Linked DNA regions of Homo sapiens. The protein of the gene in region 1 interacts with the protein of each later gene in a pairwise test. Each region holds a gene or a part of one and is shown in the gene's direction. Other genes may lie near its edges.

Region 1 (3,500 bases):
TTTCTGATGTTTAAAAAAATACCCAGTATACCTTATTAACAATAAAAAGTAACCTTTGTCAAAAGCACAAAGATTTTCCCTATCAGCACATGTAGATCATTGTTTTTAACAGCTACTACTATTCTATGCTATGGCTCTATCTTTTTTTTAAAAAACTGGTTCCTCATCAACAGACAGACGTCTTATGGTTATGGCTGTCGAGCATCTTGGCTGACTTCTATGATTATATCTGTAAAATAAGTTTCTGATCATGAAGTGATATATCAAGGCATAATTAGTTAAAAATTTAAAAAGATGTTGTGAAATGCCCTTCCAAAAGACAGTAAAAGTATGTATTATGAGAAAGAATACAGGACTACCAGTTTTCTTGTATCTGTGTCAATAACAGCTGTTAATAAACTTTAAAAGTTTTGCCAATATGTTAGGTTAAAAATAATATCTCTTCATTTGATTTACCTTTGTGAGTGAAATTTGAACATCGTTGACCATTTTTTACTGTGAATCTTTTATTTTCTTTATCTGTTTTTGTATTTGGTTAACTATCTTTTTTATTATTTATGATACTTTTTGGTTCTTTTTGCTGTACATTAAAAAAATATATTTCATAAAGAAATATGCCCTTTAACCAGCGACTTCATTGCCAGAAGTTTATCCAATGAATAAACTCATAGTGTTTTAATAGTCACAGCTTCTGAGTGTGGGAGAGATCTCAATTCGTAATATCAAAATGCAAAAATATATTTTCTTCCAGTTTTGTTTTAATTCCATTTTCTAAAATACTGAAATCTTAGAAACATTTGAAATTGTTACTAGAAAGTAAGGATCCAGCTGGTTTTGTTTTTTTTTCCCCAAAAGATTAATTAATTCAATACCATTTCTTCAATAAGCCACCTTTTTCTTGATTTGAAATGCTGTTTATTATGTATTAAATTTCCACATGAATTTTTGTTTTCCATAGAGTCTTTATTTCAACCTGATGAAGTCCCTTTATAAGATTCATCTGGTAGAGACCACCAGGGACACATCTGTAGGCTGACAAAGGTTAATTAGCTTGCTGCAGTGAAGGAGACTTGCACAGCAGAGGAAATGTCAGCATTTCTAAAGAAGGAACCAGGGTTATTATAGGATTTTGGAGAATGGTGGAGTTTGGATAAAGTTTAAACGCAACAATATTTGATAAGCTTAAAGCACGGCAAGACTGTGTGTCAAGGGTTAATAAACATCAGGCCTGGGCTGAGAAGCTGACTCAGGATTCTGATTCCCTGGAGACTACAAAATCGCGATACATGTGGAATGTTGTGTCTGGAAACCCCTTATCTGAAGCTCTGAGTTGCAAAGTGAGGTTGCTTCTGTTTCATAATGATCTACCATCAGTGCGAGAGTGGGATGTTCCATTCTCACTTTATAAAATTTCAAATAACATAGTTTCTGACAGTCTGATGTAGAGAACAGTTTCTCAGCACATTGTCTTTAGTATTAACAAATGCATTTTTTTAAACAGACTGAGAGTTTGTTCAGCATAAATACCAAATTGTTTTCATTACCTTTTTTAAGGTAATATATTTTTATATGTAGTAAACTTTGTCTCTTCCCCTTCCCCAGTTCCCCTTTCAAGAGTTTTCCAGTGATACTCACCTATTTTTCCAGATAACATTTAGAATAATTTTTGCCACATTAATTTTTTAAAATCTTTTTTATAACTTAAAATTGATCAGATCAGATTAGTACACCCCTTCCCACAATGCCCCTTTCCAGAATTTCCCAGTTACACCCACATGTTTATTGGTCCAAAGTTTTAGAATACTTTTTGCCAAGTTATATAATTTTTTAAAATCTTCCTGTGTTTTAGCTGGGATTACTTTACATACAGGTTAATTCGGAGGAAATCAACATCATTATCATTGATACCTTTTTTTTTCCAAACTTTTTAAAATTTTGGTAAAATACATACAAAGTTTACCATCATAATCATTTTTAAGTTTATAGATCAGTGGTATTAACTACATTTATATTGTTGTGCAACCATCACCGCTGTTTATCTCCAGAACTCTTTATTTTGTAAAACTGAAGCTCTATATCCGTTTAAACGATAGCTCTCCATTCTCACCTTTCCACAGGCCCTGGAAACCAAAAGCCTACTCTGTCTCTGATTTTTCACTACTTTAAAGTACTTCATGTAGGTGGAATTGTGCATTATTTGTCCTTTTGTGATTGGCTTATTTCATTTAGCAAAATGTCCTCAAGATTCATTCATTTTGTAGCATATATCAGAATTTCCTTACTTTTCAAGGCTGAATACTATTCCATTGTATGTAAATACATTTTGCTTGTTCATTCATCCTCAGTGAACACGTGGTTTGCTTCACATTTTAGCTCTTGTGAATACTGCTGCAATGACCATGAGTGTACAAATACTTTCTTGAAACCCTGCTCTCATTGGGTATATATCCAGAAGTGGAATTGCTGGATCATATGGTAATTCTATTTTTAATTTTTTGAGGAATTTTCATACTGTTTTCCATAGCAGAAATAACATTTTACTTTCATACCAATAGTATACAAGGGTTCCAGTTTCTCCACATTCTCTTCAACACTTAACAATTTTCTGAATTTTGATGGTAACCATTGTTATGGGTATAAGGTAGCATCTCATTGTAGTCTTGATTTGTTTTGCTAATGATTAGAGATGTTGAGTATCTTTTCATCTGTTTATTGGCCATTTGTGTATCTTAGGAGAAATGTGTATTTGAGTCTTTTGCACATTGTTGAATCAGGTTGATTTTTTTTGTTTGAGTTTTAGGAATTTTCTATATATTTTGGATACTAATCTCTTATCAGATAATACGATTTGCCTGTATTTTCACCCATTCTGTGGCTTGCCTTTTACTGTTGATAGGGTCTTCTGGTGCACAAATTTAAAAATTTTTCATCAAATCTAATTTGCCAATATTTTCTTTCAGTGACTCTGCCTTTGTTGTCACATCCAAGAAATCATTGCCAAATATAATGTCATGAAGCTCTTTTGTTCAATGTTCTAAGAATTTTATAGTTTTAGGTCTTATATTTAGGTCTTTGATCCATTTTGAGTTACTTTTTCTTCTTTTTTTTTTATTTCAATAGGCTTTTGGGGAACAGGTGGTGTTGGGTTACATGGATATGTTTTTTGGTAATGATTTTTGAGATTTGGGTGCACCCCTCACCCAAGCAGTGTACACAGTACCCAATGTGTAGTCATTTATCCCTCACCCCCTCCCACCCTTTACTTCAAGTTCCCAAAGTCCATTGTATCATTCTATGCCTTTGCATCCTCATAGCTTAGTTCCCATTTATGAGTGACAACTTACAATGTTTGGTTTTCCATTCCTGAGTTACTTTACTTAGAATAATGGTCTCCACCTCCATCCAGGTTGCTGTGAATGCCATTATTTCATTATTTTTTATGGCTGAGTAGTATTCCGTGGTGTGTGTGTGTGTATATTATACATACCACATTTTCTTTA
Region 2 (3,500 bases), on another chromosome or scaffold:
GTATACTTTCAGATGTTTTTTAAAAAGCACTTTGGCACCTTCCTATTAAAGAGTCTCTCTAAATCTTCTCTCAAGTAAAAGGAAGCAATCAAAAATGTTCATTGGCTTAATTAATTAGTTTAATACTAATTATGAGTATTATGGACTTTTTTCAGAAGAAAATTTGGATAAGATAGTCTCCTATGCTTTTGATTTCTACCTTTATCAAAGAACATTGCTAAAATGAGTAGATACCTGAGTCAGTCAGCATTTATTTGGCTACCTCCTTTTGCCAAGCACTTTACATAGATTATCTCATTTAATTCCCATAAGCTCAATAAGGTGGCACCATTATTTCCATTTTACAGGTGAGAAATCAGGTTCAGAGGATTAGCTTCTACCCAAAGTCATAAGACCAGATGGTGGCAGAGTTAAGATTTGACTCATGTTTGTGACTCAGAGCTCAAGATTTTGTAACAACCTTGATACTCTGTTTCTCACTCAGCAGCACAACAAGGGCAAATACGTTCCTACTCCCGCAGAGACTAGTGTCCAATAGATACAGGGAATACATATTTTATTCAGTGCACACTAGTTGGGAATTGTTTCCTACAAAGACATGAAAACAATCTTCAAATACTTGCAGTACTGTGGTTTGGGGAGGCAAAATGATCAAAGGTATATATTACAGGGAGGCAGTTCTGGATATAATTTAAAGAAGGAGGGCTTTCAACATTTAGAAGCTGTTGGAATTAAATGACTTGCCTTGGGAGGTAGTGAGTTTTCCTTCACTGGAGTTATGTGGACCAACTGGCTGCCCTCTGGTGACAAATACAGAGGGAATTCATCCATTGGATAGGGGTTAGGTACTGGAATTACTTGAGACCTTTGTATACTTTATGATTTCAAGGTGGCAGACATGGGTCATTGTCTTAATCAGTTTGGGCTACTATAAGAAATATATTTTAGACTGGGTGGCTTAAACAACAAACATTTAGTTTCCACAGTTCTGAAGACTGGGAAGTCCAAAATTGTGGTGCAGTCAGATCTGGTGTCTGGTGAGAGCCAGCTTCCTGGTTTGCAGGCCTGCTTTCTGCTCTCACATTGGAGAACAGAGGGAGAGAAACACAGAGAGAGTGTGTGCTCTACTTTCTCTCTTCTTATAAGGGCACTCATCCCATCGTGGAGACCCCACCCTCATGACCTCATCTGAACCTAATTATCTCCCAAAGGTCCACCTCCTGATAGCATCTCACGGTGAGAGGGATGGAGCCGGGAAGGTTTCAACATGTGAATTTGAAAGGGACACACATAATGCAGTCTGTAACGGGTCAAATGTAACCTCAATAAAATGAGTAAATTGCTACATTTGCTTGAATTTGGGACCTTTTTTTCTTTCTTTTTTATTTTAGTAAATGTTTTTATTGATAAATGATTCACATACCATAAAATTAACATTCTTAAAGTGTAAGATTTCATGGTTTTTAGTATATTCAGAAGGTTATGCAGCCATCACTACTATCTAATTCCAGAAAATTTACTCATCCGCCAAAGAAACTCTGGACCTATTAGAAGTCACTCCCCATTTCCCCAAACCCTCTAGTGCCTGACAACCTCTACTGTGGGAACTTTAACTTTTGGCTTTATTTTTCACAGCTCTCGTGGCATTATCCTTCAGTGGGGCTATTGGACTGACTTTTCTTATGCTGGGATGTGCCTTAGAGGATTATGGGTAAGTTATCATTTCAAAAAGAACTATTCCTCTTTCTGTGTCTTTGTCACTATTAGTATGGGTGTTAGAGAGTTCGGTCAATTTAGCACCAAGTTCTAACCAGTGAGTTAGTGGAGCCCAGTTTATGAACACAGTCCCTTTGTGGGTCAGGTGTACTTTTGCAGAGGGCTCTGTTAAAAATTGATGTATTCATTCCATAAGCATTTGTTTAACACCTACTCTGGACTAGCTGGGGACACACAAATGAAGAGAGAGTCCTGTCCTCAAAGAGGAGGTAAAGTTCTAGTTGTGAGTGAGAGACAGGCAAACGGTCTAGTCAGTAATCTGGCAGCTGCAGTGGAGATGCCAGCACAGTACGCTGGAGCTCGGATAAAGTGCACCTGAGTTTCAGTGGGACAGTCAGGGAAGGCTGCATGGCAGAGGTTGTATCTGAGCCAAGACTAGGTGGATGAATAAGAGTTTTTCAGGGTGATGAGTCAGGGGAGGACATTCCAGGCAGAGGGAACATTCTACACATTTTTTCATTCAACCATTGTTGGTTGAATGCTTCCCATGTGCCAGCTACTGTTATGGGAACTAGGGATTAAGACATAAGAAAACAAAGGTCCTGCTCTCTCAGAGTTTGTGTTTCAGTGGGGGAGACGGACAGTAAACAACAAAAGTATGCATACTGTCAGAGGTAGAAATGGTACAAAAGATGAAGAGCACAGAAGCTGGGAAGACAGTGGTCAGGGAGGGCCTCTCAGAGGAGGTAAAAAGTGAGAAGAAATGTCAAGAAAATCAGCAAGCAGGCCATACAGATCTCTAGGGAAAAAGCACTTTAGGCACCAGGAAAGCTGAATGCTAAGGCCCGGAGACATGAAAGTGTATATAGCCTTTTCAGGAAACCACACATGGTACATTATGGTACAGCATAAATTGTAGTGGAGTGGCAAAAGAAGGGTTAGTCAAGAGTGTAAAAGTCAGCACTTAGGGCTCTATATGCCTGCCGTGTAGAGGAGGTTCCATTTTATACATCAGACAATAGAACCTGGGAAAATATCTTGAGAATGGGTTTGGAGGAGGGGGTTATGTTAAAATGTCATTCTTGCCATAACGTGAGACTAGATAGGAAAGAGCTGAGACTGCAGTCAGGGAGAATAGTAGGGGACTACTATCATAAATCAAGCAAAATTGAGGGCTGGGGCAGTAGGAATGGAAAGAAAAGGAGAGTGAGTTAGGAAACCAAACCAACCAACAGGTTTTGTTCATCGATGTCAGGATTCAACAAGGAGGGAGAGTTCTTAGATGTCTCCCAGGTGATTGGCTTGAACAACTAGATAGAAGATGATGTGATTAGGCCAGGCACCATGGCTCACGCCTGTAATCCCAGCACTTTGGGAGGCTGAGGCGGGCAGATCACGAGGTCAAGAGATCGAGACCATCCTAGGCAACATGGTGAAACCCCATCTCTACTAAAAATACAAAAAATTAGCTGGGCGTGGTGGCACACGCCTGTATTCCCAGCTACTTAGGAGGCTGAGGCAGGAGAATTGCTTGAACACAGGAGGTGGAGGTTGTAGTGAGCCAAGATCGTGCCACTGCACTCTAGCCTGGCGACAGAGCAAGACTTTGTCTCCAAAAAAAAAAAAAAGATGATGATGATGTGGTTAAGACCTATTGAAGTGAGTTATTATGACAGTGATGAATTCAAATCCATCACCGCAGTCCTGGCCAACTATTACAGAAATTGTTTAAACCCAAGAGGGATCCAGATATAAGCGGTCACTTATATTTGTTTAGAGCCTTC

Evidence for each region. The genes of interacting proteins can lie anywhere in the genome.
Region 2: the proteins of C1GALT1 (region 1) and LEPROT interact in a two-hybrid assay, tested with the Homo sapiens proteins (one large-scale study listed by BioGRID).

The regions. Positions count from the first base shown.
Region 1 is NC_000007.14:7,189,044-7,192,543, forward strand, and holds part of C1GALT1 (glycoprotein-N-acetylgalactosamine 3-beta-galactosyltransferase 1), read left to right. Parts: intron 1-3,500. UniProt on the Homo sapiens protein: Glycosyltransferase that generates the core 1 O-glycan Gal-beta1-3GalNAc-alpha1-Ser/Thr (T antigen), which is a precursor for many extended O-glycans in glycoproteins.
Region 2 is NC_000001.11:65,423,668-65,427,167, forward strand, and holds part of LEPROT (leptin receptor gene-related protein), read left to right. Parts: intron 1-1,635; coding exon 1,636-1,711; intron 1,712-3,500. UniProt on the Homo sapiens protein: Negatively regulates leptin receptor (LEPR) cell surface expression, and thus decreases response to leptin. Negatively regulates growth hormone (GH) receptor cell surface expression in liver.